Linked DNA regions of Homo sapiens: regions 2 and 3 are each linked to region 1. The links come from fine-mapping of genetic effects on gene expression. A gene starts in region 1. Each other region holds a variant in brackets. All regions are shown on one strand. Distances are from middle to middle. Region 1 holds the start of PPM1K-DT (PPM1K divergent transcript). Region 2 overlaps PPM1K-DT (PPM1K divergent transcript). Region 3 overlaps PPM1K-DT (PPM1K divergent transcript).

The links. PIP is the estimated chance that this variant, and not a neighbour inherited with it, causes the effect.
Region 2: its variant is the best candidate, but not a certain one, in a credible set for the expression of PPM1K-DT in sun-exposed skin (GTEx, PIP 0.89).
Region 3: its variant is the best candidate, but not a certain one, in a credible set for the expression of PPM1K-DT in prostate (GTEx, PIP 0.84).

The regions. Positions count from the first base shown.
Region 1 is chr4:88,283,613-88,286,375 of GRCh38, forward strand. It overlaps PPM1K-DT (PPM1K divergent transcript), which reads left to right and starts at 1,318. Exons shown (of 5, transcript NR_134238.1): 1 at 1,318-1,449. It overlaps PPM1K (protein phosphatase, Mg2+/Mn2+ dependent 1K), which reads right to left and starts at 949. Exons shown (of 7, transcript NM_152542.5): 1 at 794-949. RefSeq lists enhancers at 732-791, 832-921, 834-1,357 and a silencer at 1,092-1,311.
Region 2 is chr4:88,338,763-88,341,525 of GRCh38, forward strand. It overlaps PPM1K-DT (PPM1K divergent transcript), which reads left to right. Exons shown (of 5, transcript NR_134238.1): 4 at 2,100-2,190; 5 at 2,541-2,763. Among named protein-coding and RNA genes, the nearest start is that of HERC6, 39 kb to the right of the region's middle. The variant G/C (reference allele first, on the strand shown) is at 1,232.
Region 3 is chr4:88,323,618-88,326,380 of GRCh38, forward strand. All of the region lies in intron 3 of PPM1K-DT (PPM1K divergent transcript), which reads left to right. Among named protein-coding and RNA genes, the nearest start is that of PPM1K-DT, 40 kb to the left of the region's middle. The variant G/T (reference allele first, on the strand shown) is at 1,445.

The DNA of each region.
Region 1 (2,763 bases):
GAATTCCCTCATCTACAGAAAGCGGCTGCTGAAAAAGACATCACCAGCTACAACGCCTTGAGTACTACAGCGCTCCCTGCGCAAAGTAAAACCCAAGTCTTCGGATCAAAACCAGCCGGGGCTGTGCATCCTTCACGATGCCGGACCTCCTGAAAAGCTCACCTGGGTACAGCTCAGGATCCTGGCCTCGGCTCGCTGGCCCTGACAGGCGGGTGGTCAGGGTGACACACGGTGGGAAGAACACACGCCCGCCTGCCTGCGAAGCCTCGCAAATAGCTGGGCTCCCTCGGCACCTTCTGCCGCCAGGTCTCCGCCTCCCAACCTCCCTCTGGGCGTACCGAGCCCGTTGTCGCCACGTTTCCCTCGCCCGGGAGGCAACGCGGCACCCACCCCGCAGCATCCTCGCTTCCGGGGCCTCGGGCAAGGGTCTCCAGTCCCAGCCCACCCACCCTGCCCGCCTCGCGCCGCGCTGGCCCTCCAGCCTGCGGCCACATTCAAGGCCGAGCGCAGTCTGGGCTGGAAACCCGCCGCCCGGGGCGCAGGCAGCCCAGCTGGGCCCCGCCTCACCCCGACGAGCTGCTCACGACCTCCAAAGGGAAGAAAGCGACGCTCTGAGAACTCCGAGAGGCCGCCGGCCAAGCGCCGACTCGGGGGGCGGGGGAACGGAAACCGACGTCTCCCCTTCGACCTCCCGGGAAACCCTTCTCCGTTTACTCTCCATTCCGCGACCGCCAATAAAGAACAGCATACATGGTTAGCAGAAATAAATGAATTGCACTCTCTAGGCTCTTACCTCTGGATGGCTACGTCCCTGAAAAATGTTTTAATTAGCTAACGGAGGACGGGGGAGGAGCTTTCTTGGTCGGTAAATAAGAGTGCCTTCTCCGTCGTCTCGGATCTCCGAAGCAAGCAGTCAAAGCGGCCACTGCCTTGCCTGCTGGAAATTCTCGAAAATTTTTCTCCCGCAGTTGACCAGATGGAGAGGGAGAAGTCTGTTCCCGCTGACTGACAGCAGATCCGGCCAGTCCGCACTCGGCGAGACGGCTGGCCGGCCGCCCGGGCCCTCGATCGCAGCCAGTCACAGATGCCGATGGGAACGAGCCTCCCCGCGGCTGCTATTTGACTTCGCAGGCTTCCAGCTGCGCGGCGGAGCGACGTCACCCTGTGCCAGTGGTGGCTCGCGGCGGCGCCCCGCCCTCCCGAGGTTAGCTCCCCAGCCAAAGAGGGGGCGCGCTTGCGCGGTGGGTGGGGCCGCGAGACTTGGTACCTAGCCAGCGGGCGGAGCGCGGAGGGGGTTTCGCTTCGGGCTAAGGGACTGTAGTTGTGACAGCCAGGAAACCGAGAACGGAATGCCAATACTGCTTAGGCTTAGAGTTTGAAAGGCATCTGATTTCACTGCCATGTCTTTGAACAGCAGTGCACAGTGCAGTCTTCTTCGTGGCTGAACAGGTATCTTGTGATCTTTAGGGAATGTCTATTAATTCATTAAACAAGTATTTCTGTGTTTATTGAAGGACGTCTTGTATGCTATACATTTGCTAGGCACTGGGGATACGCCCCTAACACAGCTAGACACGATAGCTGCCCTCATAGAATTTTCAGTCTAACAAAGAAGAGGGAGAAAACCAACAAGTAAGCAAGCACATAGAATAGTAATTAATCATGTCAAGGAAAGAAATAGGCATGGTGTGGACACTGGAGGATAACTTCAGATAAGATTGTTATATGAGAACTTTATAAGATGGCATTTAAACCATCAGTCATTCAGCCATGGAACCAATAAAATGATGAATTGTTTTGGGCAGAGGGGACAGCAGACAAAGGTCTCTCGGTGAGACAGCCCGGCGTTTTGGAAGAACAGAAAGAAAGCCAAAGTGTCTCCAGCATATTGAGGGAGGGAAAGAACAGCATGATGTGAGAGAGATGAGGCAGACAGGGGCTTGGAGTTGGCATTACATTTTAAATTTAATGGGCTTCTATTGAGGCATTCGAAAAAAAGAAGTGAAAGGGTCTGGGTTTAGACTTTACATCACTTTGGTTAGTGTGCAAAGAACAGTTAAAATAAGCTATTGGGAAACTGATTAGGAGATGATGACAGATGAAATTTAAGGTGGAAGATGACTTTGATTAAACTATGACAATATCACTGAAGGGAGAGAAGAGCAGAGAGATTAGAGATTTTAAAGATAAATAATTAACTTGATTTGGCATTTTAGTTATTCTAGGCCAGGGACAACTGTTTTGAATCCAGTGCATTTAATAACCAGGTTAGAGAGTGACTCTCATATTGACGGCTCACAAATTATAGTAATAACCTTGAGTAATATTATGTTGAGTTGATGTCTTTTCATAGACTTCCTGGATTTTTTTTTCTTTTGTCTTTCTTTCTTTTTTTTTTTTTTTTTTTTTTTTTTTTGAGACAGGGTTTTACTCCTGCCCAGGCTGGAGTGCAGTGGCGCTATCTGAGCTCACTGAAACCTCTGCTTCCCAGGCTCAAGTGATCCTCCCACTTCAGCCTCCCAAGTAGCTGTGACTACAGGCACGCTCAACCATACACAGCTAATGTTTATATTTTTTGTAGAGATGGGGCTTCCCCATGTTGCCCAGGCTGGTCTTGAACTCCTGAACTCAAGCAATCCACCCACCTCAGCCTCCCAAAGTGCTGGGATTACAGGCATGAGCCACTGTACCTGGCGTGGAATTTAAAAAAATAATAATTTTATTGAAACATGTGTCTTAAAAAGTGCACATATCCTAAGTGTA
Region 2 (2,763 bases), 55 kb after region 1:
AGTCCATTCAGGCTGCTAAAACAAAATACCTTACACTGGGCAATTTACAAATGACAGAAATGTATTGCTCACAATTCTGGAGGCTGGGAAGTCCAAGATCAAGGCACCAGCAGATTTGGTGTCTGGTGAGGGCCCATTCTTCGTAGATGGTGCCTTCTGTGTGTCCCCACATGGCAGCAGGGGCAAACAAACTCTCCTTGGTCTCTTTTATAAGAGCATTAATTCCCTTCATGAAGGTGAACGCCTCATGATTTAATCACTTCCCAAAGGCCCCACCTCTTAATACCATCACATTGGATATTAGGTTCTAATAACTGTAACCTCAAGTTTACAGTTTGCCAACCTAGGCCAAAGGTAGGGAAAGTATGGCCCATGAGCCAGATCAGGCCTGCTTTCCTCCCCTCTTATTTTTGTATAGCCTCTGAGCTAAGAATAGATTTTTATATTTTTCACTGATTATAAACAGTCAATGAAAAAAATACTTTGTAACACATGAAAATTATATGAAATTCAAATTTGAAAGCACAAACTGTTTTTCACCGTTGCACACTTCTGTGACCAGATGTGTAAAGGTTTTTCTCCACATACTAAGCAAATCTCCAGTGGACGCCAACTGAGTGTCTTATAATTCAATTTAATTCTGATACTATCCACCTGAAGATAGCATCAGACCCTACAGGTTAAGGGCCCAGTCCCACAAGACTGCCCGCACTCCAGATACCAATTAAAAGCCCCAGGTTGTAGGGCCAGGTGTGATGACGTACGCCTGTAATCCCAGCACTTTGGGAGGCCAAGGCAGGTGGATCACTTGATGTCAGGAATTCGAGACCAGCCTGGCTAACATGGTGAAATCCCGTCTCTACTAAAAATACAAAAAATTAGCTGGGCGTGGTGGCAAGCACCTGTCATCCCAGCTACTCAGGAGGCTGAGGCAGGAGAACTGCTTGAACCCGGGAGGTGGAGGTTGCGGTGAGCCAACATCACGCCATTGCACTCCAGCCTGGGGGACAAGAGTGAAACGCTGTCTCAAAACAAACAAACAAAAAAAAAAAACAAAGAAAGCCCCAGGTTGTTATTTGTGCTTCTGACTGGCTATAAATCAAGGTTCCCTCAACCACCTCTTCAGGTTTGATTAATTTGCTAGTGGCTCACAGAATCCAGGGAAACACTTTAGTTACATTTAATGGTTTATTATAAAGAATAGTACAGGCCAGGCATGGTGGCTCTTGCC[G/C]GTAATCCCAGTACTTTTGAGGTTGAGGTGGGCAGATCACTTGAGGTCAGGAGTTCAAGACCAGCCTGGACAACATAGTGAAAGCCTGTCTCTACGAAAAATACAAAAACTAGCTGGGTGTGGTGGCGCGTGCCTGTAATCCCAGCTACTCTGGAGGCTGAGGCAGAAGAATCGCTTGAACCTGGGAGGCAGAGGTTGCAGTGAGCCGAGATTGCACCACTGCACTCATGGTGCAGTGACAAAGTTAGAATCCATCTCAAAAATAAATAAATAAATAGTATAAAGGATGCAGATGAATAGCCAGATGGAAATGATGAATAGGGCAAGGTATGTGAAAAAGGGCACAGAGCTTCTATGCCCTCTTCGGATATACCACCTCCAGGCACCTCCATGAGTTCAGCTATCTAGAAGCTTTTCCAACTCAGTCCTTTTGGGTAATTATGGTCATTATGTAGACATGACTGATTATGGTTATAGTAATCGAAGGGGATTATTTCCAAGACTCCCACAGATACTAAAATCTAGGTCCTACAGTTGACCATTGGTGATCAGCTCAACCTTCAGCTTGTCTCCCCTCCCTAGAGATTAAGAAATGTGGCTAAAAGTTCCAACTCTCTAATCATGCCCTAGTTTTTCTGACCAATCCCCATCCTGAAGCTATTTAGGGGCCACCAGTCATCTCATTAGTGTACAAAAGATACTCTTACCACTCTAGAAATGCCTCATATTTTAGGAGCTGTATGATGGGAACCAGGGCAGAAATTAAATATAGATTTTTAAAAATTATACCACAGTATAAATAGTTTTATTGGAACACAGCTATGCTCATTCATTTACGTATTATGTGGATATTTTCATGCTACCATAGCAGAGCTGAATAATTGTATTGGAGAATGTGTGGCCCACAAAGCTTGACTATCTGGCCCTATACAGAAGAAGTTTGCTGATCTCTGACTTAGGTAACTGATGTACTTCTCTTATTGCTATTAAATGGGCAGGGTAAATATTAAAAATACCTATATTTTAGGGTGGGAGAAAAAAATTAACAGCTAAGGAATTTGGGGGCGTATTTAAGGCCATATTGGAAAGGTACATATGTTAATTATTCCCTCCATACAAAAATGACTTTGATATTCAGATTTTAATAATTATCAGATAGCTATAATATGTGGAGTGATGGGAAGTAACATTTTGGACAGATTGCAGTTAGGAAACAGACCCTGGTCAGAAGGTCTTAGACAAAAATCTTAGCATCAAGCTCAGATTATTCCTTCCTGCTTCATTTGTGTTCTCCTCACAATGCTTTCAGCTGCCTAGGAATAGCCAGGCAACCAGCTGCTACTTTGAGCACCCGGCTAAAATAAGCAGAGACAACTGGAAGGCTTGATGTGAAAAAGAGCTGTTGAAGTGTACACAAGCAAGCTGACTGCCTTATGACTAATACTTGACAGAACCCAGCAAGAGGATATGAGATTGCAGATGGATGACCTCAATCCTGAACAGAAAGGCGTGCATGATAATGGAGAGAAAAA
Region 3 (2,763 bases), 40 kb after region 1:
CATAGTTCACGATGGCTATTTAGAAGGGCTGGATGGCTGGGTGTGGTGGCTCATGCCTACAACCCCAGCACTTTGGGAGGCCAAAGTGGGTGGATCGCTTGAGTCCAGGAGTTCGAGACCAGCCTGGGCAACATGGCGAAACCCTACAAAAAATAGAAAAATTAGCCGGGCATGGTGGCGCGCGCCTGTAGTTCCCAGTACTCAAAGGGCTGAGGCAGGAGGATCACTTGAGCCTTGTGGGATTGTGTGTGTGGAAGTTGCAGTGAGCCAAGATTGGGCCACTGCACTCCAGCCTGGGTGACAAAGGAAGACCCTGTCTCAAAAATAAAATAAAATAGAAGGGCTGGAAATGGAAGAATAGCTGAAAAGCTGTCTTTTGTAGGAGGAAATTTGCATCTGCAGAGAAACAGCTGCATTGGTGCAGCCAAGCTTTCTCTGAAGCCATCTCGCATCTGATCTAGGAAGGATTAACTGAGAGTCTGATATTTTAAAGGTCTAAAAGAAATGTTACCATCTATTTTCTCTGATGGCTACTATCTGTGAAGTTTCATCTACAAGGCCACTTTTGCTAGCCACCCATAACCTGTCTTGCCACTATGACCTGATTTAACTACCACCTTAACGTGTTTTTGGTCGTGCTCTGAGCTCCCAGGCTTTGTGTAACTTCAAGATAGTATATAAGCTTCTGCATCCCCATTGGAGGGCTGGAGTAATCAATCTGTGATTTTTTTTCCCCCATGCATGCCAATACATTTGTATATACCTTTTCTCTTACTAATCTTCCTTTCATCAGTTGATTTTTCAGTGAAACTTCAGAGGGTAAAAGGGAAGTTTTCCCTTGGTCTCTACAAGATCATGTTAGCAACATGAGGTTGCAATCATTAGAGTCCTGGGATTCCTGCTAAATGTTATTTTACGTAGTCATCCTGCCTCCTTCAGGCAAAGGTATTTGAGGAGTGGCTATACCAAATGTTAGGCAGGCGGATCCTCTGAGGTCAGGAGTTTGAAACCAGCCTGGCCAACATGGTGAAACCCCGTCTCTACTGAAAGAATACAAAAATTAACCAGGTGTGGTGGCACGTGCCTGTAGTCCCAGCTACTTGGGAGGCTGAGGCGGGAGAATCGCTCGAACCTCGGAGGCGGAGGTTGCAGTGAGCCGAGATCTCGCCACTGCATTCCAGCCTGGGTAACAAGAGTGAAACTCTGTCTCAAAAATAAAAAAAAAAAAGAAAAGAAAAAGAAATTCTCATGGCATGATTCGAGAGATGAGTGATGTCAGACCTGAGGGCCAAATTGTAGACAACTGCTCCTTAAGAGTAAGGACTATCTCTTGCTTATCTTTGCATCTTCTGTAGCACCTAGTGTTTAGGACTCTATAAAATTGAGCCACCCAGATGACTGTATTCCAAAAACATGAGTATGTTTTCTCTCAATCTCTGTGTAT[G/T]GGATAACTGTTTTGTTTTGTTTTATTTGTTTGTTTCAGGCCCAATGTTTATTCCTACTTCTACTAAAAGTACTTTATTTTTCTTATTTTCCTGGGGGAACTATTCCCTCCCAGTATTCTACTACGTAGTTCAGATGGAGTTAAATCTACTCACTGGCTCCATAAGTAAGAGTGTTATCTAGGCCAGCCTTAGAGGAGTAACAAATTCTCCTGGCCACAATAATTGGTTCAGAGGTGTTTCCACAAACCAAGCTAAGACAGAGTGGTCAATCCTGGCACTAGGATAAACTTCTGTTGGTAAGGTATGGTAGCACATGCCTGCAATCCCAGTGCTTTGGGAGGCTGAGGCAGGAGGGTTGCTTGAGGCCAGGAGTTCAAAAACAGCCTGGACCACACAGCAAGACACCGTCTTTAAACACACACACACACACACACACACACACACCCTCCTTCTGTTGGACTTGCTGCACTAGAATCATAAGCTTGAAGTCACCACGTAGCTGCCTGGGAATGGAACTGCCACAGAAGAAAGACAGCCTAGGAATGGGTGAGAAAGACAACGTCTTGTTAACATCATTTGAGTGCCTGAATCAAACCTTTCCCAAAGCTCACTCCTTGAACTTTCAGGTATTGAGCCAATCAATCTTTTTCTAAATTTAAACTAATTTGAGTTGGCTTTCTCTCACTTACAACAGGAGTCCTGACATATATCTTTAATGTCACCCTCTACCACTTGATATTGTGAGTGAACAACTTTGGATCTTGGGCTTTCCTTAGCTCTCTATGCCCAATGCTAAATGTGATTTCACAATTATGGTTCAGGCCTGTTCAGACTTCTCTATGTGAGAGAGCTTGTGCATGGGTATGATTTAAATCTCTCTGTGTCAGAATAGCCTTGTACAGTTCTGTGCGTGAAATGTTTGCTCAGCTAGTCTAGATGAGGATATTCTAGATGTCATCCTTCCAAGGAGACTTCCCTGACTCCCACACTTTCATATATGTCAGATGAAAAGGATCTCTTATAGTTTCCTATGCTTACCCTTATTCTAACCGTCTTTACTCTATATTATACAGTTGGCTCTTGAACAATATGGGTTTGAACTGCATGGGTCCAATTATACATGGATTTTCTTCTCCTTCTGCCACCCTAGAGACAACAAGACCAACTTCTCCTCTTTCTCTTCCTCCTTAGCCTACTCAATGTGAAGACGTTGAGTATAAAGACTTTATGGTGATCCATTTCCAGTTAATGAATAGTAAATATATTTTTTCTTCCTTATGATTTTCATAAGAACATTTTGTTTTCTCTGGCTTATTTT